Regions from separate parts of the Homo sapiens genome. Here regions 1, 2, 3, 4, 5 and 6 are each linked to region 7. The links come from fine-mapping of genetic effects on gene expression. A gene starts in region 7. Each other region holds a variant in brackets. All regions are shown on one strand. Distances are from middle to middle.

Region 1 (4,064 bases), 57 kb after region 7:
CTGGCTGCATGGTGAGTCATCTGCTTTATAGGCCGTGGTCCCGTTGTCACCCGTCTTGGATGAGAGCTCCCTGACCTGTGTCCTAGGCTGGCCCCTGCACACCCCTGGCTCCATCCTGAGCCCACTGTGGCAGCATCCTCTTCAGGTCTCCCCTCTGCCCCGACCTCCTGCTTACCTCCTTTACCCAAGACGGAGCAGGTGACCCTGGCAGGATCCCAAAGGCTGGCTTAATACAAATTAGCATCTCCACTGTACCCTGCAGGCAATTCATAACTGCCCTACCCCAGGTGGGGGCAAGATGGAGCCCTTGTCAGTGCTCAGCCCAGGAGAGGTGAGGGATGGCCACAGAGATGCCCTGCACAGAGAGGCCGCTTACCAGCTCCTCATCCCCTGCCCCTGGGATTCCTTCCCTCCTGTGCCTCTGTACCCTCCCCAAGCCATGCAAATCCATTCCAGACTGAGTTTCCCAAGATGAGGAGACCCCAGACCCAAAAAGCACTCCAGGGAGGTGGCTGGGCAGGACACACTGCCTCTCCCAGTTGTTGGCTGAGGGCAGAGGGCCGCAGGGTGGGTGCCCCACATCTGTGGAGCTCACAGCAGCCCAAACGTCACAGCCCATCTGCTCCAACAGCCTCGGCAGGCTCCGTCCTTCCTTCACTGCTGCAGTCGGTCAGGCTGGTATTATCTCCTCCATCTGGACGTCCTCAGCAGCAGGTGCCCCTGGCTTTCTACAGCTCTTCATCCCCTTCCCAGCCCTAATGCACAGCCTTCCTTCCCCAGCACCTGGGGGTACGAACGTCTGGCTGTTCAGCCCCACAGGTTCACCATTCACTTCTTGCCCACAGACAGACCCAAACCTTAGCCTAACAGCATCCCCGCCCCCCGAATGGCTCTGTGAGATCACGCAGCATTGATGGTTCTGCTGCAAAAACAAAACACTGATGAAGCCGCCATGCTCAAAAGGCCACATGAGGCTGAGCACGGTGGCTCACGCCTGTAATCCCAGTACTTTGGGAGGCCGAGGCAAGTGGATCACCTGAGTTCAGGAGTTCGAGACCAGCCTGGCCAACATGATGAAACCCCATCTCGACTAAGAATACAAAAATTAGCCGGGTGTGCTGGGCACAGTGGCTCACACCTGTAATCCCAGCATTTTGGGAGGTTGAGGCAGGCAGATCACAAGGTCAGGAGTTTGAGACCAGCCTGACCAACATGGTGAAACGCTGTCTCTACTAAAAATACAAAAATTAGCCGGGCGTGGTGGTATGTGCCTGTAATCCCAGCTATTCAGGAGGGTGAGGCAGGAGAATCGCTTGAACCTTGGAGGCGGAGGTCACAGTGAGCCAAGATCATGCCACTGCACTCCAGCCTAGGCAACAGAGTGAGACTCTGTCTCAAAAAAAAAAAAAAAAATTAGCTGGGTGTGCATGCCTGTAACCCCAGCTATTCAGGAGGCTGAGGCAGGAGAATCCCTTGGACCTGGGGGGCGGAGGTTGCAGTGAGCCAAGATCGCCCCATTGCACCACTCTGGCCTGGGCGACAGAATGAGACTGTCTCAAAATAAATAAAAGACCACACGGGGGCGCCGTCTTCAGGCAACAACTGCTCCTCCTCCATGAGGATCATCTCAGGCCCAGTGGGCTCGTGCTGGGGTGGGGTGGCGACGCATGGACATTACTTTTCTGGGTCCTTACAACGGCTCAGGCACATGATAAAGTGATGCTGCTTTTACCGTTGAACACACTGAGGCCAGAAGTTGAGTTGTGGGCCGGGGTCACAGGCTCACATGGTCTAAGAGGCAGCTTCCAGTCGGATCTGTTTGT[CGTGCGCTGCT/C]GTGCGCTGCTCTGCGCTGCTTTCTGAGGGGCTGGTGTCTTTGCGGTTTCTCCCCGGCCGCCTGTTTGTTGGTCTTAAGGCGTCAGCCTCTCACTCATCCAACACTTGGTGTCACCTGCCCCGCGCTGTGTCCCGGACAGGGTTGGACACTCGCAGGGAGGCCTCAGACTGGGCCCTGCACGACAAGAACCCACTGGCCGGAGGAGTGACGAGGTCCTGCTCCCTCCCGCCCCGCTTCTCCCTCCTCATCTGCCGTGTGATCTCACCAAGATCCACTTGATTATTTGCTGGGCCTCATTGATTCCTGGCTCGTGGCCTTGGGAGCCGCAGAGCCTTGTGTTTCTCTTGCAAAAACAAGCAATCACACGAAAGGCTGTGCCTTTGAGTCCTGGCGGGCAAAGACTGTCAACGGAAGAGGTGTCCAGAATAAGGCTCTATTGTAGGTGAGGAAAAAGGGATTCCAGTCCCTTCCTTCACAGAGCCACATTTCCCTGAAGGCTCTGAAGTCCCATACGGGAAACCATGAGGGCCTTCCGGGAAGGAGGGGACCGCTGATTTCTGCAGCGAGTCCCTCCAGCGTCCCGGCCCCTCTCCGGCTGGGCCTGTCCCCAAGGCAGCCCCACGTACTTCACTTCTCCGCGCTGGGATCCGCGTGTGCTGGGCACACCACAGCTCTGCTGTCCTGGTGCTCTGTCTGATGGACAGACAAGACCCTGGGCACGAGGGCAGAGGAGCCCATGAAGGGAAGAGAGGATTGTGTGGCTGGCCGCTGAGGGAGCTCCATGAGGTGGTGTGGCCACACCCAGTGTGGGACCAAGACAAGCAGGGGCCAGGGGTACAGGAGCCCCTCATCGGGGTTGTGGCTGGGGCAGAGCTGGAGCTAAGGGTGGCGGGGGCAGGGGGGCGGGAGGTGGTACAAGGTGACGTTCAGACTTCCTGAGGCAGTGGAGGGCATAAGAGGAGTCACACCTGGCCTCAGACGAGGAGGGTGGCTGAAACCACAGCAGGGCTGATGCAGAGGAGGGGGCCTGGGCCAAGGGAGCTGGAGATGTGGGGTGCACCCAGGGCCATCTGGAAAGTGAGCTAGGGGCCTGGAATGGATGGGTCGGGCACAGGACAGAGCAGCCAAGGTGGTCCTTCTGGCTTCAGGATGGCAGAACACAGAAGAGGAGCAGCCCGGGGCAGAGGCTGAGTCTGGTTTGCGAGTGAATGGGGATGTGTCCTGGAGGCAGCCAGATGTAGGGCTGGGGGGAGAGGTCTGGGCCAGGACAAAGCAGAGGGGCCTCAGAAAGGGCAGAAATGGAAGCTGCAGAGTCTCACTCCCAGGCAGGTGTCATGATGGTTGCTGGGAAACCCCACTGCGGGGCAGCCAACCACGGCTCCAGCTCACTGCAGCCGCGTGGGGTACGGAATGTGGCAGGCCTGGGGCTGCTGAGAGAACCTGCAAACCGGGTTTTCTGTGAAATATCTTGATTTTAACATATTGGTCAAGGCTGGGTATGGTGGCTCACGCCTGTAATTCCAGCACTTTGGGAGGCCGAGGTGGGCAGATCACCTGAGGTCGGGAGTTTGAGATCACCCTGACCAACACGGTGAAACTCCGTCTCTACTAAAAATAAAAAATTAGCCAGGCGTGGTGGTGCATGTCTGTAATCCCAGCTACTTGGGAGGCCATGGCAGGAGAATTGCTTGAACCCGGGAGGCAGAGGTTGTGGTGAGCCGAGATCGTGCCACTGCACTCCAGCCTGGACAACAAGAGTGAAACTCCGTCTCAAAAAAAAAAAAAAAAAATTGGTCAATACAAAAAATTTTTGAATGTCATAGATCAGGTTACAGTTTGAGACCCAGGAGGTAGAGGAAGATGAAAAGAACTTTCAGGACAGAACCTGGGAGGAGGGGCTGTCCCAGGCAGACACTGTTGAGCTCAGTGGGAACAGTGAGGGTGCCCCACAGAGGAGGGAGGTGGGGACAGGATGTGTGGATTGATCTGTGCAGAAGTGGGCTGGGGTAGGGGGCGGGGGAGGGCCCGGCCTCTGAGCCACCTGTAGTAGGGTGGGAGTGAGGGGTGGGAGTAAGGGGCACATCCTCCCACCCTGGACCTGGCAACACATCCCCTTCCTCCCCAGAAAGTCACTCTAGCTGTCGAGACAAAAATATATCCAGGGAACAGAACACCAACGGACCATATGCCAAAATGGGAAGGTTGGATCTATCTGTCAGGAGTTGCTTCA
Region 2 (4,065 bases), 250 kb before region 7:
TTAGCTGGGTGTGGTGGCGCGTGCCTGTAGTCCCAGCTACTCAGGAGGCTGAGGCAGAAGAATCGCTTGAACCCGGGAGGCAGAGGTTGCAGTGAGCCGAGATTGCGCCATTGCACTCCAGCCTGGTGACCAAGCGAGACTCTGTCTTAAAAAAAAAAGAGTGTCTAGTTTCCTTCTCTTTGTGGCATCCAAGGGCTGGCCTGGGACTCATGTGTACCTACAGTGCCTAGATCTCAGAGACCCTCTATGCATATTGGGGGGAGCTGTTTTTTTGTATTTATTCGTGAAACTCCTTCCCAGGGACTCCCATGACTATGAGTCCTGAAGCTTTAAGTATCAAAGTATAGGTAAGACATATTGCTTCCTGAATTAACATAGATAGGAAGCCTGGGGAACATAGGCAGAGCTCATCTCTACAAAAATGGTGGTGCATGCCAGTGGTCCCAACTACTTGGAAGACTGACGTGGAAGGATCACTTGGGCCCAGGAGGTCGAGGCTGCAGTGAGCCTCCATTGCGCCACTGGACTCCAGCCTGGGGAACACAGTGAGACCCTGTCTCAAGAACAAAAACAAAGGCAGGAGAGTGCTATAGTTAATGTGATAGGTTTTGAAGTTAAGACAGACCTGGTTTGCAATTCTGGTTTTGCTACTTGTTAACTGTGTGACCTGAGATAAGTTGCTTAACCTCAATGAGAACCTAGTTTTCTCACCTATAAAATAGTGCTACCAACCTCTGGCATAGGGAAGGGTAAATGAAATAATGCCTGTAAATGTCTTTGCAGCATGTGGCACATACTGACATCTTAGTAAGTGTTAGCTATCGTTATAATTACAAAGAGTGAGTGGGAACTCAGGCAGTTATTGCTGCTGATCACGGACTATTAACTATGTATTACTATTTAGGTTGGTGCAAAAGTAATTGCGGTTTTTGCCATTACTTTCAATGGCAAAAACCGCAATTACTTTTGCACCAACCTAATACATACCAGAGGACGGAGTGAGGATTCTTTTGACATCTAAGAATTGTTTGGATTAAACCATCTGTGCAGCCCAGCCAACAAAGGCAGTGCTAGAACTTCCACCAGAAGCTGTCGTCTGGCAAAGGGCTCTTAGGCTCATGTCACTTTTCTGCATTGACAAATGGCTTTTACTATTTCAGCCGAGTTCAGTGTGCCCATCTGAGTTATCTGATACAACTCCAAAGTAGCAAAGCCCTCTTCATCTAGCCCTTTATAGATGTGTGCACACATTATGTCTTTTCTCTGGATTTCTGCTTAGATGAGGCAGGTGCACGTTTTAAGGATGGGTTTCTTTCCCATTTTTCAGCTTCTGTCATTGGGGGTTGGTGTGTTTCATAGAGTCAGGGACAGGGTAAGAGGTTCATGAGCACAGGCCCATCCATGCCTTTAATTTCACCTTCTTTGCTCTAATTCAATACTTATTACCTTTACTCCTTCATCCTTTTCCAGAGAAAATGATGTGGCTGGTATTGATGTCAACATGGGCTGTCCAAAACAATATTCCACCAAGGTAAACTGGTTTCTTTATACTCCTCATAAACATAGGATGCAGATTAAGAGGCTGACAAGACATAACTAAGTATAGTACCTAACTCTGGACTGGATTCTGTACTAGATGGGGAAAATGCTCAAAAAGATATCGTTAGATGAACTGACAACATTAGAATAGGGACCATAGTATATTAGCTAAATATACTGTATCA[A/G]TGTAAACTTATGAAGATAACTTCTGTGGTTATGTAACAGAATATCCCTGTTCTTAGAGAATACACACTGAAATATTTAGGAGTAAGGGGCTATGATATATGTAATTTACCCTCAAGTGGTTTATACATATACACACACACTCATATATCACACACACATACATATATAGATTCATACATAGATTATATATATTTTATTATATATTATATATAATGTTATATATTATATAATGTTATATATTATTTATATGTTATATAATATATAGGTATATTATATTACATATATATTTATTCTATATAATATAATAATACACATATATGTAATTATATGTAATCTATAATTATATATTACACATATAAATATATACAATAAATATATAAATATATAATATATAATTATATAATACATATAAATATATGTAATATATATTTATATATATATGTAATATATATGTTATAAATATATAATATATAATTATAGATTACATATATTATATATTACATATATAAATATATAATAAATATATAAATATATAATATATGTAGTATATAAAATAAATATATAATAAATATATATTACATATATAAATGTATATAATTGTGTATGTGTATAGATACATATATATATATAGAGAGAGAGAGAGAAAGAGAGAGAGAGAGAGAACTCATGCCCAAGTAATAAAACAATGCAAAGGTACAGAGAAAAATAGAGGGGACAGGGCTGTGTCTTTTCATGAATAAGACTGAGACACATATCCCAGAAAGCCCAGAGGAGGATTATAAAAAAAAAAAAGGGAAAACAACTGAGACATACATTTAAAAAAAAGAGAGGAGGCCGGGAGTGGTGGCCCACACATGTAATCCTAGCAATTTGGGAGGCTGATGCAGGAGGATCACTTGATCCCAGGAGATTGAGATGAGTCTGGGCAACAGAGTGAAACCCTGTCTCTATAAAAATTTTCAAAAGTTTAAAAAAAAAAGGCCAGGCCTGGTGGCTCATGCCTGTAATCCCAGCACTTTGGGAGGCTGAGGTGGTCAGATCACCTGAGGTCAGGAGTTTGAGACCAGCCTAACCAACATGGTGAAACCTTGTCTCTACTAAAATTACAAGCAATTAGCTGGGCGTGGTGGTGTGTGCCTGTAATCCCAGCTACTTGGGAGGCTAAGGCAGGAGAATCGCTTGAACCTGGGAGACGGAGGTTGCAGTGAGCAAGATCATGCCACTGCACTGCAGCCTGGGTGACAAGAGCGAAAATCTGTCTCAAAAAAAAAAAAAAAAAAAAAGTGGATGCAGTGTAAATGTTCCCATTGTCGTATCAGAAGAGATCAGACTATGGTAGCCCAGAGAAGGGAGTGGAAAGGCAGCCTTTAAACTTGGAATTTGATAGGGAAATATTGTCCTTGGGCTGAGATTTAGGACCCTGTAAGCAGAGGGTGTGGTATAAGCAGGGGCCTGGGGATGAATATGAGGTAGACACAGGGAGGCCTGAGTAGCCCGATTTGACCAGAGGTTTGTCGAGTGGGAGATGATGAAGAAGAAGCAGACTGCAGGATCGAAAACCTTGGTTGGTAAAAGATCAGCTGGACTTGGACTTTAGGTATCTTTGGGCTTTTTTTTTTTTTTGAGATGGAGTCTCACTCTTGTCGTGCAGGCTGGAGTGTAGCAGTGCAATCTCGGCTGACTGCAACCTCCGTCTCCTGGGTTCAAGCGATTCTCCTGCCTCAGCCTCCTGAGTAGCTGGGACTACAGGTGCCCGCCACCACACCCAACTAATTTTTTTTGTATTTTTAGTAGAGACGGGGTTTTGCCATGTTAGCCAGGCTGGTCTTGAACGCCTGACCTCGTGATCCACCTGCCTCGGCCTCCCAAAGTGCAGGGATTACAGGTGTGAGCCACTGTGCCCGGTGGTTTTGCTGTTTTCTGATTACTTCTTTGTGTTCCTAAATTATGTGAGGAGCAGAGTTAAAATGATCTGGAGGCAGGGTAAGGTGGTATATACCATTTATATAAGGAGGATAGGGAATGATTATATATATTTATTTGTTTATTCAGGGAAGATTTTTGGAGAGACACAGAAGAAACTAGTAACATTGATTTCCTCTGGGGAAGGAAACTTAAGTTTTTATCTGGTTATGCATAGGTAGTAAATTCCCATTACAGGGGTGCTACTGAAAATAATTAACTGGCACAGCACTGGCACTGATCAGTCAGAAGAGACACCAATCAATATGCCACACATGTACATACTAGCTGAATATCTGCTGTGTTCTCATGGTTCAAAAATTGAAGCCAGATAAAAAGCATAGATTGAGGCTGGGCTTGGTGGCCGATGCCTGTAAT
Region 3 (4,061 bases), 45 kb after region 7:
GGACCTGTGGCGGATCCGGAGCCCCTGTGGTGACTGCGAAGGCTTCGACGTGCACATCATGGACGACATGATTAAGGTAGGCAGGGCCACACTCTGCATAGTACCCCCGACCTGCTCCTGTATCGCAGGCCTCTCACAGGGTCCCAGCTTGGGCAGCACAGGCTCTTCTGTTGGGGGCAGTGAGGTCAGGTGCTGCCATTTTGTGTGGTTCAACATGAGCATTGCTTGGTACCAGCCCTGTTCTTGGCTCCGTGCTGTCACCCTGTGTCAGAATCTCCACTGGGCCTGCACGTCCTGTCATTGCAACTGCCCCTGCCAGTGCCCACAGCTTCTTTTCTAGTGGGGCTGACTTTCCAGAGGCCATCTGGGAACCTTCTTAGGCAGCCATTTCCATGGTGGGGGCTCCATTCCCGGGAGGGGTACCTGAGGAGATTCCCACAGGTTATTTACATGGTAGGGGTTAGCAACTGGGCCTACGTTCTCCAGAACCATGGGCTGTCCTGACAGCGCCAGTGGTCCTTGGATTCATGAGGACTGAAGCTGAGAGTCGTGTTCCATCCACATGAGAGGGGCAGGGTGAGGAGCATGGGCCGTGCTGTGTATTAAGGAAATGCACGTGGCTCCTGCTTGTCATCCCAGCACTCTGGGAACCTGAGGCTGGTGGATTGCTTGAGCCCAGACGTTTGAGACCAGCTTGGGCAATATAGCAAGACCCTGTCTCGACAAAAAATAACAAAAAATTAGCCAGGCATGGTAGTGCACACCTGTATTCCCAGCTACTCAGGAGGCTGAGGTGGGAGGATGGCTTTAGCCTGGGAGGTCGAGGCTGCAGTGAGCTGCGTTTGTGCCACTGCCTCCAGGCTGGGTGACAGAGCAAGACCTTGTCTCAAAAAAAGAAATCTCATGGACACCAGAGGAGCGGGAAGCAGCGGTGGCCCCGCAGCAGCAGCTATGCATCGGGAGGTGGGGCTTTTCTGCTTCTGCTCACCTTTCTGCTCTCATTTTCCCATAGTGAACATGGATTGCCTGTGTGTGAACACTTTTTTAAGTAAATTAAACCTTGTGGATATTTTCAGTTTGTATCTTATCTGCCCCTCACAGCAGACCATTGACTGTTCGATGCTTTTAGAAATCTCCTTCGTGCTGAGCCCTGCGTGCTCTGGACCCATGCGCTCTACGCCTCCTCTGGGCCCCTGCTCATGGCCTGCCCACCCTGGCTGTCCCTGTCCCCTCTTGCTGATACGGTTCTGCTACTCTGGTCCTGGGCCAGTGTCTGTCTCTCGTGTGCTAAGGCAGATGGCCGAGAGTGGTGGGTATCCCACAGTGGGGTGCCAGGCATTTTTACTTCTATGCTTTCCAAATCCACCTGCCCTTCCCCACCCTTAGCCTGGCCCTTCCAGTGCCCTGTCTTAGACCTGGCGCCACTTCACACGACCAGCCAGGCCCAGGGCCCCGGGCATCCTCCCTGGCAAGTCCTCCCATCCCCTGCCATTGGTCTTCGTGCTCCTGGTGAGCCTCCGACCCAGGCTGTCCCCTGACTGCTGCCGTCCTGGTTTGAGCCCCTCCTGCTCTGGCCGTCCTCCACACGGAGCCCACATGAACTTGTAGATCTGAGTCTGGCCACATCCCCACTGCAGGAATGCCCTAGCTGGCTCCCCACACCACACCTGCAGAGTGGCCCGGCTGGCCTGGGTGCCCTGGCCTGCTCTCCTGACTTAGCTCTATCCTCAAGGCCCCCTCTGGCCCTTCTCCTGCCGGCTCCCATTTGACCGTCACCTCCCCTCCTCCAGGTAGCTTTCTGCATCCCTCCTGGATGCAGGTGCCCCCAGCCTGCCGCCAGGCACCGGGGCTGTACTGTCACGCATTTATCCCTCCCTGTGGCCCGGGGCCCACCTGTCGGGGCCACACAGCTGTGGTGGTCACCAAGTTTCTAGGTGCTGGGTGTTCTCACCAGTGATGTAGATATGTGGTCCTCAGAAGGCTTGAGACAGGCAGCACCACCCCATCTTAAAAATCCGGAGAGCGAGGCTCAGAGCCAGCGGTGCCTGGGGAGCCACTGATGAGAGAGAAGTGGCAGAGAGGGGGCGCCGCTGGTCTGCTGGGCGCTCGGCATCTTTATGGGAGAACGCACACCCCTTGTGACTGCAGTCAGTGGGAGCCAAGCCGGGGAGCGGTACCTCTGTCTAGCTGCCGGCCTGTCTCTGCAGCCCCCAGGCCCCCTTCTGTTCGCAGCGTGCCCTGGACTTCAGGGAGAGCAGGGAAGCTGAGCCCCACCCGCTGTGGGAGTACCCATGCCGCAGCCTCTCCGAGCCCTGGCAGATCCTGACCTTTGACTTCCAGCAGCCGGTGCCCCTGCAGCCCCTGTGTGCCGAGGGCAC[C/T]GTGGAGCTCAGAAGGTGGGTGCAGAGAGGGCTGGGGGGCAGGGAGGGGCTGCTGCTTGCCCTTGGAGTTCTCACCCCCGTGGTGAGCACAGCTGGCCTGGGAGACGCTGACACGTGGAGGGGGTATTCGTCCTCCCCACAACCTTGCCCTTCCCTGTCAGAGTGGCCCTGCGCGTGTGGTGGTTCCCACGGTCCTGTGTGTGCCACTGGTGGAGGAGCCAGGAAGGGCTCTGCTCCCCCTCTACAGCTGAGGCTCCCTTGTTGGATCACAGCTCAGGAAGATGGGAGCTTACTTCCTGTGGTCACCGATGCACCATTTTCCTGAACCCTCCTGGGAGCTGAAGCAGGTCAGGGTCAGCAAGTGCTGCTTGCGTCCAGGGACGGGCAGCCCTGTCCTGCTCCGGCCCTCACCCCACCCTCGCCCGAGGAGTGACTTCTCCTGGAAGCACCTCCCAACTCGGGGCAGGCAGCCAGGCAGGGCGGGCGCCATCACCTGAGCTCCCAGGGTTGCTGTCTGGGGCATCAGAGGGGCCTTCCGGCCTTCAGTGCCAGGCTGTGCCTCAAGCTCCCCCAGACCCTGCAGCCACACCGGCCCTGCCCCATGTGTGGCCCGGCTGCAGGGCTCGGGTTGGCTCAGGTGGGGGCTTGGCTGCGGCTCTTCTGGCTGGGGTTTTTCTGAGGAACGTTTATGTAACTGCAGCACTAGGAACTCCCGGCAGGGCAGGAAGGAAGTGGGGAAGACCACAGGTTTCTGGAAAGCCGCAGGAGCTGCAGCTGTTCCCCCGCTGCCTCTTGTGTGACTACTTCTGCTGGGCCCCCCTCTCCTTGACAGGCCCGGGCAGAGCCACGCAGCGGTGCTATGGATGGAGTACCACCTGACCCCGGAGTGCACGCTCAGCACTGGCCTCCTGGAGCCTGCAGACCCCGAGGTAGTGCCTGCGCACCGGGCCCAGTGTGCGTGCAGACCCTGAGAGCAGGCGCCGCCTGGGGAGGCCTCCCTGCCCCCATGCTCTGGGTGTTTCTGTCACAAGTTCTTCGGGCCAGATGATGACCCCTCAGTGGTCCTGGGCCATCTGGCCCCTGAGCAGCTTCTCTCTGCTGCGAGCTGCCTGGGCTGGAGGCTGGCTAGGAAGGAGGCTCAGGTGCCAGGGAGCCCTCACCATCTTCCTGCTCTTCTTCCTACAGGGGGGCTGCTGCTGGAACCCCCACTGCAAGCAGGCCGTCTACTTCTTCAGCCCTGCCCCAGATCCCAGAGCACTGCTGGGTGGCCCACGGACTGTCAGCTATGCAGTGGAGTTTCACCCCGACACAGGCGACATCATCATGGAGTTCAGGCATGCAGATACCCCAGACTGACCACTCTTGAGCAATAAAGTGGCCTGAGGGCTGGGGTTCTGAGTGGCTCATGGCTTTCTAGCGGGGAAGGCTGAAGGCCCTCCTCTCCTCTCTGGGAGCTGCTCGGCCTCAGGGATGGGAAAGACTGCGCCGTGTTGCATCTTGTTGCATCTTTGCACTGCTGGCCTCTGGCTCCAGCTGTGGCAGGAAGCATGAGAGGGTGACTGAATTTGGAGCCCTGGAGGGGCTGGGAAGACCCCCCTGCTTGTGCTTCTGAGGTGCTGAGAATGCTCCAACACAGAGACATCTCTCCCCAGCTGGGAAGGGAGTGGAAGCACAGGGAGCTTG
Region 4 (4,065 bases), 690 kb before region 7:
CATGGTGGCTCACAACCTGTAATCTCAGGACTTTGTGAGGCCGAGGCCGGAGGATTGCTTGAGCCCAGGAGTTTGAGACAAGCCTGGGCAACGTGGCAAGACTCCATCTCTACAAAATAGAAAAAATTAGCCAGGCATGGTGGTGCAAGCCTGTAGTCTCAGCTACTGGAGAGGCTGAAGTAGGAGGATCACTTGAGCCTGGGAAGTCAAGGCTGCAGTGAGCCTTGATCCTATCACTGCACTCCCACTGGGTAACAGAGGAAGACCCTGGCTCAAAAACAAAAAACGAAAAGAAAATTGGATGCCACTTTTCTTCTCTTGTTAATTGTTTTACTTCTTATCCATACCACCAGACTATACACTTTCACAGGAAGAACTCTGTGCTTTACCGTTAGATCCATAGTGGTTCTAAAGAATCGAATGAACAAATGAACATTCCTTGGAATTGCTTAGTTTTTATTATACTCCAGTCACTCTTCCTCTCCAGCATTCTCTTCATTCTCAAAGAGAATCATTTCTGCAGATGGCTGGTTCTATTCATTACATTGTGGCTCTTCCTAATTGTATCCTCAAAGGCAGCCTTCCTTTGGTTTTAGTGTTTGATACTACCTTGCTGTCACCCCTTACCTGCTGCCCACAATTACAGATGGTCACTAGTCTGTGAAACTAGCACTGCATTGTGCTCTCAGTTTTGTCTCTAAGATTCCTTCAGTGAAAGACAAGAAATGTAGAGAGTATATTATTCATGTTTTATATTGGATGAATTGACATTCAGAATGATCACAGCATATTAGACATGGATGTTTGAAAATCATTTGTTTAAATCACATAAAAGGAAATACTATGTAAAGCCTGTGATAAGCCTCTGAAATTCCTTATCAAGACAGATACATGTGGAAAACAAGTTATATGTTTGTGTTTTTAAAAGAAAGTTGCAGAATATGGACAGCCCAATGGCCCTATATTTATAGTCATAATACAACGAGATTTGAGAGACAGGATCTTGCTATGTTGCCCAGGCTGGTCTCAAACTCTTAGCCTCCCAGAGTTCTGGGATTAGAGGCATGAGCCACCAAGCCCGGTCTCTATTAACTTTTAATCCATAATGACCAGGATATTCACAAAATAGGAATAAGAAGGTTTTTATTGTATTCAAAGGCAGCGGATTCAGATGGGTAATTAAGAGAAACTAATTTGGTATGTGTTATAATATCCTGGTGTTAGTATAAATTCATCCAGGCCCTCCCATAGTTTTCGGAGCTGACTTTTGTATCTGCTTTCAAGCTACTGCAGTTGATGGGATGAATAGGGTTCCAGTCTCATAGCAGTTCTGTGCCACACATTGAACTCTGTCATTAACTGTGCCCTTGATCTTGCTCTTCCTGTTACTCCATCCTTTCTCTAGGTACTCGTCCTCACAAGTGCCCAGACTGCGACATGGCCTTTGTGACCAGTGGAGAATTGGTTCGGCATCGTCGTTACAAACACACCCACGAGAAGCCATTCAAGTGTTCCATGTGCGATTACGCCAGTGTAGAAGTGAGTGTTCAGCTTTTTGTTGGTATCTCTCTTAGGCAGACCATGATTTATTTCAATACAAAGCTATAACTACTACCCAAACGGACTTAAGATGAGGTAGAAAAATGTTAGTAAATTATTAACACTCCCACACAACACCGCTCCCCCAAAAAACTTATGATGATTGTGAAAGATTTACTTGTTAAAAAGAGTCAAGTTTCTGGCTGGGTGCGGTGGCTCACGCCTATAATCCCAGCACTTTGGGAGGCTGAGGTGGGCGGATCACCTGAGGTCGGGAGTTGGAGACCAGCTTGACCAACATGGAGAAACCCGATCTGTACTAAAAAATAAAAAATTTAGGCTGGGCCTGGTGGCTCACAGCCTATAATCCCAGCAGTTTGGGAGGCTGAGGTGGGTGGATCACAAGGTCAGGAGATTGAGACCATCCTGGCTAAAACGGTGAAACCCTGTCTCTACTAAAAATACAAAAAATTAGCTGGGTGTGGTGGCAGGCACCTATAGTCCCAG[C/T]TACTCGGGAGGCTGAGGCAGGAGAATGGCGTGAACCCCAGAGGCAGAGCTTGCAGTGAGCTGAAATCACGCCACTGCACTCCAGCCTGGGCGACAGAGCGAGACTCCCTCCATCTCAAAAAATAATAATAAATAAATAAATAAATATTAGCTGGGCGTGGTGGTGCATGCCTGTAATCCCAGCTACTTGGGAGGCTGAGGCAGGAGAATCACTTGAACCCGGGAGGTGGAGGTTGCAGTGAGCCGAGATCGTGCCATTGCAGTCCAGCCTGGGCAACAAGAGTGAAACTCCGTCTTAAAAAAGAGTACCAGTTTCACATGTTAATACAGGCAAATTCTGTCAAACTTTGAAGAAAAAACTGTACCCAGAGCATTTTAAAATGGTAGGTTTATCAATTTTATTATTTGAAGCTACACTGTTACCAAAACTGGGTCAGAAAACTACCAAAAAGAAAACTTACCCTCAGAGAGAAGCAAAAATTCTAAATGAAATTATTAGCCAATGAGCCAACCTAATTTAGTAATACGTTCTAAAAATAAGTGATACTGAATATATCTGAAACACAAAGATTGTTTATCATTGGGAAATTGCTGATGTATATTACATTGAAGGATTGAAGAAAAACCATATTATTTCTGTAGATGGGATGGGAGCTAAAATTCAGTAATCATTAATTACTGTTTAATGTCCTAGCAAGTTACGTATAGGAGAAAACTTCTTTAATATAATGTGTTTAGGCTGGGCATGGTGGCTCACGCCTGTAATCCCAGTACTTTGGGAGGTTGAGGTGGGCAGATCACCTGAGGTCAGGAGTTGACCAGTGTGGCCAACATGGTGAAACACCATCTGTACTAAAAATACAAAAATTAGCTGGGCATGGCAGCATGCGCCTGTAGTCTCAGCGACTCGGGAGCCTGAGGCAGGAGAATCACTTGAACCTGGGAGGTGAAGGTTGCATTGAGGCAAGATCGCACCACTGCACTCCAGCCTGGGTGATGAGTGAGACTCCCCCTCAAAAAAATTTTAAACAGCATATATACCAGAAATGTATAATAAACTCATCCTAATTAATTCTGAAACATTGAAAGTATTTCCATTAAAATCTGGAATATGACAAGATATTCATTCTTAATGTTACTGTTTCAGCTTTGTACTGGAAATCCTAGCTAATCGAATAAAGCAAGAAATGAATTATTAATGGAAAGATAAAACTGTTATTTCTTGCAGAGAGATTTGCTTACAGAGAAAATCTAAGAGTATCAGAACAAAAACTTAGAGCAATAAGAGTTCAGTTCACTGGCCGGATATAAGATAAGCATACAGAAATCAGTAACGTCAATAGTGATAGGAAGGTATGAAATGGATTCTAATAGCAATAAAATAACTGAGGGATAAACTGAACAACAAAAAATATCTATGAAATGTACATGAAGAAAACCTCAGTAACTTTTCCAGAGGACCTGAATAAATGAAGAAACATTACAAGTTGATTCTAACTTTCAACTGGAAGAATAAATATGAATGGCTAAGAAAAATTTGAAAATAGAATGAGGGGCTTGTGCCATTGGATTTTGTAAAACTATAGTAAATGAAGCCAGTGTGATATTGCAGTAGGAATAGATAGCTCATTGGAACAGAGTAGGTTCTGGTACATATTGAAATTAACAGGTTAAATAGGGAAATCTTGAAGGAAAAGAATTAGTAACGCTGTTAGGATAGTTATCGACTTATGTGTGTGAAAACTTGGTGTGTAACACTTATGAGTGGGGCCAGGCGCGGTAGCTCACGCCTGTAATCCCAGCACTTTGGGAAGCTGAGGCGGGTTGGTCACCTGAGATCAAGAGTTTGAGACCAGCCGGGCCAACGTGGTGAAACCCCGTCTCTACTAAAAATACAGAAGTTAGCCAGGCCTGGTGGCGTGCGCCTGTAGTCTCAGCTACTCGGGAGGCTGAGGCAGGAGAATTGCTTGACCCTGGGAGGCGGAGGTTGCAGTGACCCACAATCGTGACAGTGTACTC
Region 5 (4,065 bases), 210 kb after region 7:
GGCACATCCAGGGACTGCCTGTGACGAGGAGAAAAGGATCACGTGTAACAAGGAGATGCTGGTTACATTTGCTGGGCTGGGGAAGGTTGCCCAGGGAATGGGGACAGGGTGAGAAGAGGAAAAGGGCAAGGAGGGGCCCTGATGAGGAGTGACACTCAGGAAGGTAGACTCTGAAGAGAAGTCCTCCCCCACCCCTCAAGCCATCACTGAGATCTCTACCCCAGGCCAGCGCCTACTCATCCTTCAAGGCTCAAGCATCACTTCCTCCAGGAAGCCTTTCTGCCCAGCTCAGGCTGTGGTCCTCCCCCTTCCATGTGGTGCTCCCAGCACACTGCGCCACCAACCTTGTGACTGCCCACCTCCAGTCCTGTATTGGGTTGGCTTGTCTGTATGCTTGCCTGTCTCCCAACAGAGGCTGTATGCCCAGTTCTGGTGATGCTGCCCCACCCCATGCACTAGTGGCTCCCTGGATTCCGGCCGGGCTGTGCTGCCTATGGGATTCCATCACACAGATGCACGAGGCCTGTAAGGAAAAGTGGATCCCAAAGCCAGAGTCTGAGTCAAGGGTTGCTGGGGGTGGGGTGTGGACAGGGGGTTGGCCGAGGGAAGGGTATTTTACTCCACATCACATAAGATTTTTACACTCATTGCCAGGCACAGTGGCTCACGCCTGTAATCCCAGCACTTTGGGAGGCCGAGGCAGGTGGATCACTTGAGGTCAGGAGTTCAAGATCAGCCTGGCCAATATGGTGAAACTCCAGCTCTACTAAAAATACAAAAATTAGCCAGGCCTGGTGGTGCACCCCTGTAGCCCAGCTACTCTGGAGGCTGAGGCAGGAGAATCACTTGAACCCGGGAGGCGGAAGTTGCAGTGAGCCAAGATAGTGCCACTGCACTCCAGCCTGGGCGACAGAGCGAGACTCTGTCTCAGAAAAAAATAATAATAAATTGCACTCTCTCTTCTTTGTTTTTTTTTGTTTTGAGACAGAGTCTTTCTGTCGCCCAGGTTGGAGTGCAGTGGCATGATCTCGGCTCACTGCAGCCTCCGCCTCCCAGGTTCAAGCGATTCTCCTGCCTCAGCCTTCCAAGTAACTGGTATTACAGCGCCCACCACTACGCCTGGCTAATTTTTGCATTTTTAGTAGAGACGGGGTTTCATCATGTTGGCCAGGCTGGATAATCCACCCACCTCAGCCTCCCAAATAACTGGTATTACAGCGCCCACCACTACGCCCGGCTAATTTTTGTATTTTTAGTAGAGACGGGGTTTCACCATGGTGGCCAGGCTGGATAATCCACCCACCTCGGCCTCCCAAAGTGCTGGGATTACAGGCGTGAGCCACCGCGCCCGGCCAGACTTTTACACTCTCGAGAGGGACTTTGGAAGTGCCGTGGGTGACAGCCCTTCTGAAGTCCCCAGGACCCTGGCTGGAAGGGATGGGTAATTAGAGCTGTTGTGCCTGGGTGACAAAGCCAGAGAAGCCTGGTCCCTGGAGGAGAAACCGAAATGTCTGGAGAGGTGGGGCGGGTGGCCAGGCTCAGGGTAGAGAGAAGCAATACAGAGGCCAGGTAAGAGAGCCGCCCCCTCTCTGGACAGGGCTGCAGGTGAAATACGCCGCCCGAGGTAAAGGAAAGAACTGCAGGTTCCATAAGTGTCCGCTAGGGGGCTACCGAGGATACACCAGCTGGGTCGCCTTGGTAACCGCGGAGCTGCGAATGTGTTGTCCCCACGCGGTGGCGGGGAGGTACCAAGATCGCCCCAGGCGCGGCGTATCAGACGCTGGGGTGGGGGCGGGGGTCTGTGGCCATCAGCCCCAGGCAGGCCGTGAGCCCAGGCCAAGGTCCAGGCAGAGATGAAGGACCCAGCTTACTTTCACCTTCGTGTTTTCTCACCTCTGCTCAGGTCACACCTTCACTGGTTGAACTGGACTTAGCAGTTGTGGTAGGAAAAATTAAAATGGTGTTTTGGATCAGCCAAAACAGCTCCTGCATTGTACAGATGAAATAGCAACCCAGAGAGGGAAAGTCACTTGGAGATCACACAACAGCAGACCTGG[A/G]AACAGAGCGAAGAGAAAGTGGAACAGAATGGAAGAAAGCAAAGCAAATGAGCAAAGCCCAGTCAAGCAATGTGTTCACTTTATTATCATCATCATCATTATTATTATTATTATTATTTTGAGACAGGGTCTCACTCTGTCGCCCAGGCTAGAGTGCTGTGGTGCAATCATAGCTCACTGCAGCCTCAAACCTCGAACTACTGGGCTCAAGCCGTCCTTTCACCTTAGCCTTCCTCCTGTAGCTGAGACCACAGGCTCATGCTACCATGCCCAGCTAATTTTTGTATTTTTTGTAGAGACAGGCTCTTGCTTTGTTGCCCAGGCTGGTCTCGAACTCCTGACTTCATGTGATCCTCCGGACTCAGCTTCCCAAAGTGCTGGGATTAAAGGTTCGAGCCACTTCACTCAGCATTCTATTTTTTAAATTACCACTTTTGAATTTAAATAGTTTTAAGCATAAGCTTTTACCTGGTGAATTTAAGAAGACATAATGCTACAATGTAACTTAAGAATCCCTCCAGCAGATGACAGGCATCTTTTCCTTCCTATACCACATTCTTCCTCCTCCAACTAGTGTCTTTCTCTGGGCTTTAGTTTCATCTATACAATGAAGGAGCTGTCTTAGCTCTTCTCAAAAACCATTACTCTTTATAATAAAGCAAAGCCTCTGTGGTCCTACACTTTGGGAGGCCGAGGCGGGTGGATCATGAGGTCAGGAGTTTGAGATCAGCCTGGCCAACATGGTGAAACCCCCATCTCTACTAAAAATACAAAAATTAGCTGGGCGTGGTGGTGGGCACCTGTAATCCCAGCTACTCGGGAGGCTGAGGCAGGAAAATCACTTGAAACCAGAAGGCAGAGGTTGCAGTGAGCCGAGATTGCGCCACTGCACTCCAACCTGGGTGAAAGAGTGAAACTTCATCTCAAAATAAATAAATAAATAAATAAATAAATAAATAAATAAAGCCTTTATGTCATAAGCTTAGCTCAGTTAACTCAGCACACAGTTCGTGGGCACATAAGTGGGTAAGTTCCTCTTACAGACAGAACCTGCTTGGCTGTCAAATATCTCTGTAACTGGGCCCCTGGCAGGCCCAGCCTCAGGACAATCTAGACCAGGTTCTTGGATCCATGTATCTGGTTGTAATGTTGGAGGACATCAGCCATGAACAAAAACTATCTCGGCTATAATATTTGCAAGTTAATTAATTTGCAAGTTTATTTAAAAATTCAGATACAAGGCCAAGTGCCATGGCTCATGCCTGTAATCCCAGCGCTTTGGGAGGCCAAGGTGGGTGGATCACTTGAGTTCAGGAGTTTGAGACCAACCTGGCCGACATGGTGAAACCCCACCTCTACTAAAAATACAAAAATTAGCCAGGTGTGGTGGTGGGCACCTGTAATGCCAGCTACTCGGGAGGCTGAGACAGAGGAATCAATTGAACCTGGGAGGCGGAGGTGGCAGTGAGCTCAGATTGCACCACTGCACTCCAGCCTGGCGACAGAGCAAGACTCCGTCTCAAATAAATAAATAAATTCAGATACAAACATAATTCAATAAATATAGCATGAGAACAATCTTGTTTAATTTTTTATTTTTTATTTTTTTTGGAGACAAGTTCTCACTCTGTGGCCCAGGCTGGAGTGCACTGGTGCGATCTCGGCTCACTGCAACCTCTGCCTCCCGGGTCCAAGTGATTCTTGTGCCTCAGCCTCCCAAGTAACTGGGACTACAGGTGCATACCACGAGGCCCGGTTAATTTTTGTAGTTTTAGTAGAGATAGGGTTTCGCCATGTTGGCCAGGCTGGTCTCAAACTCCTGGGCTCAAGCAATCTGCCCGCCTCAGCCTCCCAAAGTGCTGGGATTACAGGCATGAGCCACTGCACCTGGCCCAAATTTGTTTAATTTCTAGTCCCTCACTCTTTCTCTGCCCTCCTTCTCTATCCTGTCCTTGGCTCATTTTGTCCACTTTCTTTCTTTTTTTTTTTTTTAAGATGGAGTCTTGCT
Region 6 (4,065 bases), 72 kb after region 7:
AGGCCTCCAACCTCAAGTGCTCTGAGCCTGCCTGGGTGCTGAGGCCTGTGCCTGGGCTGGGCCTTGCAAGTCACCAAAGCAAGGGATCCTGGAACACCAAAGCAGGTCACGTCACCTGCTCCCGGCTGACCAGCGCCACCTGCATCCTCAGGAGGCCCTCTGCCCTCAGCACCACCTCTGCCCTTCATAGGAAGGAGACCAGGAGGGCCTTGCTTCTCTCAGGTTCTGCTGTTGAGATTTCTGTCCCAGCCAAGTCCCTACTTCCCTGACATGAAGGCTGATGTTAATGGTTCATGAGCCTAACAAGGCTTGGAATATGCTTTACTTAAGAGGGGATGACAGCATACTGTCTGTGGGAGTAGAATTTTAAACACAAGTCCACACAAATGTTAGGATTTAGGCAGACCCTGTGTCGGCTGCATTTCAAGTACAGCATTTCCTTCTGGAACGGATTGGCCGACTACACGATGTGTAGGCATTTCAAGGCACCAGAGAACACAGATTAAGACGACAAACCTTCCTAAAACAGAACAGACGGGCTAACATTCTTCGGAAGGGAATCATTTCACATTCAGTCTAAAGTTTTCTATGCAAAGAACATTTAACAAACTGAGTCCTAGAGGAAAATTTATGCAGACCTTAAGAAGCAAGTGAGTGAGAATGAGTAAATAAAATCAGGTGTCAGCATTTCACTCACCCTCCCAGGCGGCTGGGCTTTTTGGACTGGGGCAAGGCCTCACTGCTGAGGGTTGAGGCCCCGTCCTGGACCCTTTTGGAGACCTCTAACCCCAGGCCACTGCTCTACACATGGCACCATGAAAGACCATCCCTCTGCACACGGCACCATGAAAGCCCTTGGATCCAAGAGAACCAGCCAGAACACCCTCCCCTTTGAGAGAGGATGCCCCAGCTCAGGCCCAACCAAGGGCTGCTGTACATCTGATAAGGGGAGACCAGAGCTCTTTTCCCTTTAGTTTACCTCTGCTTCCAAGCCCGAGACAGGACTCTTGCCTCACTTCCTCTGGCCCCTGGAGCACCTGGAACCTGATGTCCAGCCAAGAGGTAGGACTGCACTTCCTGGTCCTCTGGCGGTTGGGTGGGATCACGTGATGAGTTCTGACCAATGAGCTGTGAGTGAAAGTGATCTCGGGTATTGCTGCGCTTAAGTACTTAAACGGTAGATGTGGAACCTTCCAGAGCTCTCTCCCTCTGCCACATTGACCTGCAGTGTTGGAGATGGTGGCTGCTCCGTCAGCCTCAGTCCAGGGTGAAGAGACATGGAGCAGGGCCCCAGCTAACCCACATGTAGTGTGGGCAAGAAGAAAACCTTTGATTATAACCACCGCATGACCCATCCCATCCTGACCAATAGAGGACAGCTTCTGATTGGCTGTGTAATTAGTCCACTTACTTGATGCTGAAAACAAGCCTCATTACGGACAGCTTGCAGTTTCTCAAGAATACAGCCAGATCTACCCTCCAATCCAATCCAACTCTTCCTGCTCTCAAGGATAATGAAACAATAATGATGTTCCTTTGTCCTGAATCCAGGCCAGGCGGTAGGCTCACTCCTCACCTCCTCAGTGTGGCCTAAAAAAGTCCATTCCTACCTGTCCAAGTTCTTCTAGCACCATGAAGCATCAGGGGAGCTGAGTCTTAATCTTTTAATTTGTAGTAGAAACTTTCTGCTCAGAGAAGCGGTTGCTTTGGTGACACAGGTAGCACAGTAAATCCGTAGACGTGGAGAAGTAAATCCACCGGAAACCTCTG[C/T]CAGGGGTCAGGGTATGGGTTGGTCACAGGGTCCAAGTGAGCCCTGTAGGGGAGGGGCAGGAGGCAACACTGGGGATCCTTTAAGGTGGGCTCAGATAGAGACAAAGCCCAGAGGCCCAGCTTGGCGAGACACTGCCAGGTGTGGCTAGCTGACAGTGCACCCAGGGCTGGCAGGGGCAGGCTGGGCAGCAGCTGTTAAGCAGGGAGGCTGGGGGCACTGGGCGAGTCAGATGCAGCATAGTGGCTGCTCAGGGTATTGCACGGCAAGGGCCTAGGGTTTCTGGCAGCAGAGACTTTGCCTCCTAGTTGTGTATAGTTAAGGGTGGGGTGTCCCCGAGGGAGGGTGTGGAGATAGGAAGGTGGTGGGTATTGGGTGGAGCAAGCCGTGAGCAAGGGAGGAACAGGTGTGGTGGTGGGACAGAAAGGGAACTGAGAGTGGACTCAGGGAGGTGGAGCCACTTAGGGAATCCTGCCTTGCCAGGGCCATGCCTTTGAGGACCATAATGACTACCAGATCACTGACTGCAGACAAGGAGGCATCCTCCAGGAGGGGCAGCTGGGGAACACGGGCCTGAGGGGAGGATCCCCTGCATTCACTTAGTTTGCCCCCAGTTAGTTTTTTTGTTTGTTTTGTTTTGTTTTGTTTTTTGTTTTGGAGATGGAGTCTCGCTCTGTCGCCCAGGCTGGAGTGCAATGGTGCAATCTCTGCTCACTGCAACCTCCACCCCCCACTGGGCTCAAGCGATTCTCCTGCCTCGGCCTCCCGAGTATCTGGGATTACAGGCATGTGCCAGCTAATTTTTTTTGTATTTTTAGTAGAGATCGGGTTCCACCATGTTGGCCAGGCTGGTCTCGAATTCCTGACCCCAGGTGATCCACCCGCCTCAGCCTCCCAAAGTGCTGGGATTACAGGCTTGAGCCACTGCGCCCAGCCAGGTTTGTTTAACTTAAATGCTTAGCCTGTCCGGATAGCATCCCACCTACACTGTGCAGAGCAAGCTGGCTCAAGTCATCCCTTCTGCTCAGAGCATGCTGGCTGCATCTGTCCTGAACTCCAGGAGGGCTGAGTGGCCCTCTGGCTGGTTGGGGGTCTGGATGGCAACCCACCTGAGGCTGCCTGCCCTCCCCCGCACACCACAAGAGAAAAGGAAGACAGAGTGTCTCACTAGACTTTCTTGGTAAAGTTTTGGAAAGAAAACGTCCAGAACAGAGGTCAGCACCTCTGAGAAAACAGTCCATGCAGTTTCAACCAGATTGGCCTTAGGAAATAGGCCCAACCGGAGGTGTAAGAGGCTCATTCCTCATCTGTTCTCCACTTGCTGCCCCTTGGTCCTGGCGCCATCCTCTTGCTCCCCGCACCATGGGACTGCTCCTTCTCAGGGCCCTTGGAGGATCCCTCAGAGCCCCTTCCCTGCCCACTTCCTAGGGGCTGGACTTTCTCTTGCCTCTTCCCTCCCTTCTCGGCTGATCCCTTGTGGGTTACCTGTTTCCAGGTGACAGCCAGCCCAGGTATCTCCTGATCTCTGACCACATGTATTTGATTGACAACTCTACATCTTCCTCTAGAAGTTTATTACTCCTCCTCCCCCCACTTCCCCACATACAATTCTGTCTCCCAAATAGTTCTGGGCCCTGGACCTCTTCCATACCCTGTCTCCTCTTCCCAGCTCACAATTCTGCCCCCTAGTCCCCTGGATCCATTCCCACAGCCATATCCCAGTTCAGGCCTCGCCCTCTCCAACCTAGACACTGTAACAGATTCCACCTTGTCTCCCTCCTCTGGCCCACCTGGCAGCTGGTGGGGTCTTTCTAAACTACACATCATACCACACTGCTCCCCTATGGCCCTTCAGTAGTGCCTGCGGACTCCAGGAGGTTGCCCAGGCACCTAGGCAGGGAAGGGCAGGCTATATCTGGTGGCCTGATTCCTCTGTCTCCTCTTGCTCCTGGAGCTCCAGGGGCCCTGACCCGAGCAGTCCCCCACTGTGCCCTTCCAGGCCTCCACACTTCTGTTGGGGCTGTTCCCTGACAGCCGTCATCTGTGTGAAGGAACATGGCCTCAGCAGAGGAACTCAGGGTTCAAGATTCACAGAGAAGATCCCTTCATCAAAACTCAGCCAGTCCACCCATGGCCCCTGGGATAACTAGAGGACCTTAGGCTGAGGCCAAACAGGCCCTTTCTCTCTTGATAGCTGAGTGTTTCTGTGCATGTATTGCACAAGCTTGCAGTCTGCATACTAGAAAGGGAGGTAACCAGCCCCTGATAGATCTGACACCTTCAGATCTATCAAGCTA
Region 7 (4,065 bases):
AGGCATGAGAACTGCTTGAATCCAGGAGGCAGAGGCTGCGGTGAGCCGAGATCGCGCCACTGCACTACAGCCTGGGCGACAAGGGCGAGACTCCATCTCAAACAAAACAAAAACAACAATAAACAATTACACTAGTACCATTTGCTTGTTGCTTGTGGATTCATTTTGAATTATAATTGTTTTAAGTTGCAAAAATAATTAAAATGAGTTCTATAAAAATGTTTATCAAGAGAGGGCATATTGGCTAGGCGCAGCGGCTCATGCCTGTAATCCCAGCACTTTGGGAGGTTGAGGCGGGCGGATCACTGAGGCCAGGAGTTCAAAACCAGACTGGCCAACATAGCGAAACCCCGTCTCTACTAAAAATACAAAAATTAGCTGGGTGTGGTGGCTCACGCTTGTAATCCCAGCTATTTGGGAGGCTGAGGTAGGAGAATTGCTTGAACCCGGGAGTTGGAGGTTGCAGTGAGCCAGCATCATGCCAATGCACTCTAGCCTGGGCAACAGAGTGAGACTCTGACTCAAAAAAAAAAAAAAAAAGAGAGGGCACACTTTATGTTGAGAATTTTCTGGTTTTTTTTTTAGAGACAGTATCTTGCTCTGTTGCTCAAACCAGAGGGCAGTGACTTGATCACAGCTCACTGCAATCTCTAATTCCTGAGTTTAAGTGATCCTCCTGCCCCAGCCTCCCCAGTAGCTAGGACTACAAGCGCGTGCCACAATGCCCAGCTAATTTCCTCTTCCTTTTTGTAGTGACAAGGTCTTGCTTTGTTGCCCAGGCTGGCCTCAAGCGACCCTCCTGCCTCAGCCTCCCAAAGCGCTGGGATTACAGGGAGTATTTTATTTTTTTTTGAGACAGGGTCTCACTCTGTCACCTAGGCTGAAATGCCACTGCCGCACAATCATGGCTCACTGTAGCCTTGACCTCCCCAGGCTCAAGTGATCCTCCCGCCTGGGCCTCCCTACGTGCTAGGATTAGGCGTCAGCTACTGTGCCCAGCCTCAAGGAGAATTTTCCATTTCTGTAGTTTTGCTGCATGTAGTAGACTTTTTTTGGAAGTGATTGCAAATGAAGTTAGCAAATGTAATATAAAGAAAAGCACTGGATTAAATGTGAGAAAACTTGCATTCTAGACCTAAATCTACCTCAAACTTGATATGCTATCCAGGACTATTCCTTTAACCTCTCTTTGATCAATTTTCCTACCTGCTCTATCTCTATTTTGCTCCAGTGATCCCCATCTCAGTCAGGGTGAAAGGCAATGTCCTTGCAAGTACCTAGCAGGCATCCTCCCCTCAAATTCCTTACTGCTCTCCTCTAGCTCACCGGGCTCCAGGCACCTTGCAAGGAGCAAAGAAACGGCTTAAGGGCCTCTTTACTTTCAGGTTCTCTGCCTAGAAGTCCTCTCGATATGTGGAATACCCTGCCATTCACCTTCTGCAAGTCTTCACTCAAATGTCATTTCCTCAGTGACACTCTCACTGAAGTGGCACCACTCTTCCTGCTTTGTCTCCCCGCCTCCTTACATCCCTTATCATCATCTGACACTGAATAGACTTGTTTACTGTTTCTGTCTACCTGCATGTTAGGTCCTCACTGCTGTATCCACAGAATCTAAAAAAATACCTGGCATATCGTAGGCACGTAGTAAACACATGTTGGATGAACAACCAAATCTGTAAAATGAGGCCGTCACGCCGGATGGATCATCCATCCCCTTAAGATGAAACTGTGCTGCGACTGGGCCCAGTCTTCTTGCATTACCATCCTGAGAAGCCCAGCGACCACCTTCAGGGGCATACTCACTTTGCAGGAGCCTGCAGAGGCGGCTTCAGGTTCTCCCTCCTCGTGGACAAGGTCTAACAACTGAAAGCCCGAGTTCCCGGCGGCTTCTGGGTTCCCCGGCGTGTACTCGGACTCCTGGCCGCTCGAGGTGGTCCCCAAGGATCGGCGGCTGGAAAGCACCCGGTAGCGGCCCTCCTGCCGGACCTCCCGAGCCGAGGCGCGGAGATTACGGCGGACACGCTGCTGGCTGTCCCGTGACGGGCGCAGAACTTCCCGCAGGAGAGGCTGGACTGGTTCCTCCTAGGGGGCAACAGGGGACGGAGGCCAGCGTAAGCAGGAGTTCGCGAGCGGGTCAGGGATCGGGTTTCGTACCGGCTGCACCCGAAGATGCCCTCCACACCAGCTGCACCACGCCCAATACCTGGGAGCACACAGTGGCCACCAAGTGGAAGACATTATTCTCCGCCGCTCTCTCCAAACCCTCCGACGTCTTCTGTGCCGCTGACTCGACCGCGTCGCTCCGGAGGCGTTTACAAGCGAGCACAAGAGCCTCCGCCGGCTCCGCACTGCGCTTCCGCTTCACCCGGAGTACAGCGGTCCTGGCGGCCTCCATAGTGGCTGCCGCTGAGCACTGTGGGAGCTCGCGGGGTGTGATGGGATAGCTTTCCAGTTCTGCTTTAGGACCCGCCCCCCAGCACGCTCCTCGACGCTGCGAGGTCCCGCCCCGCGTGCTGGCCGCGGTAAAAGTGGTAGCAGCGGAGGCGAGCGGAGGGTTTCCCGCGGCGGGTGAGGCGCTGGGTATGCTGGGAAGGTGGGGTCGCTTTGGGGTTCTGTGTGCAGCGAGCATGGTGTCCTTGGCACCAGGGTTTCGGCAGAGGAGCCTAGCGTGGGCCTACTTGGACTCCTCCGCGTGGGGCAGCTCGGGACACCCGGGCCTGCAGGAGAGCGGGGTTCTAGGCTGGCCCCGGCTCTGCAGTGCAGCCGGGTGCCTGCCACTCGCGGGGCTCTGTCGCAGTACTCGTGCCTGGCGCCTCCCCTCAGCCACAGAGACCGCAGTAGCTCCAACCATCGCACCCCTAACTGGGCCACGAGTTCTCTGATTGCCAGACCTGTTGTCTTTGCCACTCACTGTTCTGAGTAATTGGAGAGTCGTGTATTCACTACACGCCAACCAGAGTGGTCCTGTAAAAGCGTAAGCCTAGTGTAGATACGCTTCTGCTTAAAACTCTTGAGTGGCTCCCAGTGCTTTTAGAACAAAATCCAAACGCCTTTCCGAAGTCGACAAGGCCCAGCTTGATTGAGCAGAAGATGTGATAGGAGATGAGGAGCGGGGGGCTTCTGCAAAAGTGCTTCGGTCGCTCAGGCTTTTGGCACATTTTGCTTATGCAACCTAGTTCTTTCTACCTTAGGGCCTTTTCTTGGGAAAGTTGGGGTAAGGATTCCTGACCTGTAAAAACTCTTCCCCAACTTTTATCCCGGTCTGTCTTGTAGATCTCAAATGCTAGTTTCCTCAGAGTCCTTCTGTAACCTTGGTTTTCTCTTTCTACAACGCTCTGTGTATTTCTTGCATTCATGTAGTCTGTAATTTGTATTACTCTCTCATTAGAGTCTAAGCTCTTGGAGGGCAAGGGTCTTCTCTAGCTTGTGGTGGTGGCTCCAGTCCCTAATATAGTGCCTGGCACATAGAAGGTATTTAATAAATTTTGTTATTTTATTTTTTCGAGACAGAGTCTCACTCTGCTGCCTAGGCTGAGTGCAGTGGTGTGATCGAGGCGCACTGCAGCCTTGACCTCCTGGGCTCAAGCGATCCTCACCTCGGCCTACCGAGTAGCTGGGACTACAGGCACGCGCCACTACACTCGGGTAATTTTTAATTTTAATATATGTATATTTATATATATATATATATATATATATTTTTTTTTTTAAGACAGGGTCTCACTCTGTCACCCAGGCTGGAGTTCAGTGGCGCCATCTCTGCTCACTGCAACCTCTGCCTCCCGGGCTCAAGTGATTCCCCTACCTCAGCCTCCCGAGTAGCTGGGAGTAACTGGGACTACAGGCACAGGCCACCGCGCCCGGCTAATTTTTTTAAAAATTTTTTGTAGAGAACGGGGTCTCACTATGTTGCGCAGGCTGGTCTGGAACTCCCAGACTCGATATCCTTGCGTCTCGGCCCCTCACAGTGCTGGGATCACAGGTGTGAGCCACCACCGCCTAGCAAATACATTTTGAATGAATGTAGTGGACCATCTGCTCTGCAGTCTGACGGCTAATACA

What was found. PIP is the estimated chance that this variant, and not a neighbour inherited with it, causes the effect.
Region 1: its variant is fine-mapped to the expression of PRMT7 in cerebellum (GTEx, PIP 0.99).
Region 2: its variant is fine-mapped to the expression of PRMT7 in lymphoblastoid cells (GEUVADIS, PIP 0.95).
Region 3: its variant is fine-mapped to the expression of PRMT7 in whole blood (TOPMed, PIP above 0.99). The same link has a PIP of 0.9 or more in anterior cingulate cortex, atrial appendage, coronary artery and subcutaneous fat.
Region 4: its variant is fine-mapped to the expression of PRMT7 in fibroblasts (GTEx, PIP above 0.99).
Region 5: its variant is fine-mapped to the expression of PRMT7 in fibroblasts (GENCORD, PIP 0.93).
Region 6: its variant is fine-mapped to the expression of PRMT7 in whole blood (TOPMed, PIP above 0.99).

Annotation. Positions count from the first base shown.
Region 1 is chr16:68,365,612-68,369,675 of GRCh38, forward strand. All of the region lies in intron 3 of SMPD3 (sphingomyelin phosphodiesterase 3), which reads right to left. Among named protein-coding and RNA genes, the nearest start is that of PRMT7, 57 kb to the left of the region's middle. RefSeq lists enhancers at 1,378-1,931, 1,932-2,484, 2,911-3,110. The variant CGTGCGCTGCT/C (reference allele first, on the strand shown) is at 1,824.
Region 2 is chr16:68,054,894-68,058,958 of GRCh38, forward strand. DUS2 (dihydrouridine synthase 2) reads left to right here. Exons shown (of 17, transcript NM_017803.5): 7 at 1,471-1,531. Among named protein-coding and RNA genes, the nearest start is that of NFATC3, 28 kb to the right of the region's middle. The variant A/G (reference allele first, on the strand shown) is at 1,725.
Region 3 is chr16:68,353,491-68,357,551 of GRCh38, forward strand. PRMT7 (protein arginine methyltransferase 7) reads left to right here. Exons shown (of 19, transcript NM_019023.5): 16 at 2-76; 17 at 2,233-2,393; 18 at 3,211-3,307; 19 at 3,564-4,061. The coding sequence ends at 3,734. Among named protein-coding and RNA genes, the nearest start is that of PRMT7, 45 kb to the left of the region's middle. RefSeq lists an enhancer at 3,102-3,261. The variant C/T (reference allele first, on the strand shown) is at 2,379.
Region 4 is chr16:67,615,340-67,619,404 of GRCh38, forward strand. It overlaps CTCF (CCCTC-binding factor), which reads left to right. Exons shown (of 12, transcript NM_006565.4): 5 at 1,406-1,539. Among named protein-coding and RNA genes, the nearest start is that of CARMIL2, 28 kb to the right of the region's middle. The variant C/T (reference allele first, on the strand shown) is at 2,047.
Region 5 is chr16:68,519,131-68,523,195 of GRCh38, forward strand. No RefSeq gene overlaps it. Among named protein-coding and RNA genes, the nearest start is that of ZFP90, 18 kb to the right of the region's middle. RefSeq lists enhancers at 1,745-1,824, 1,845-1,894, 1,935-1,984. The variant A/G (reference allele first, on the strand shown) is at 2,058.
Region 6 is chr16:68,380,435-68,384,499 of GRCh38, forward strand. All of the region lies in intron 2 of SMPD3 (sphingomyelin phosphodiesterase 3), which reads right to left. Among named protein-coding and RNA genes, the nearest start is that of SMPD3, 66 kb to the right of the region's middle. RefSeq lists enhancers at 1-102, 1,469-2,305, 2,306-3,140. The variant C/T (reference allele first, on the strand shown) is at 1,771.
Region 7 is chr16:68,308,529-68,312,593 of GRCh38, forward strand. It overlaps PRMT7 (protein arginine methyltransferase 7), which reads left to right and starts at 2,491. Exons shown (of 19, transcript NM_019023.5): 1 at 2,491-2,571; 2 at 3,514-3,648. It overlaps SLC7A6OS (solute carrier family 7 member 6 opposite strand), which reads right to left and starts at 2,418. Exons shown (of 5, transcript NM_032178.3): 1 at 2,207-2,418; 2 at 1,807-2,085. The coding sequence starts at 2,398. RefSeq lists an enhancer at 1,423-2,387.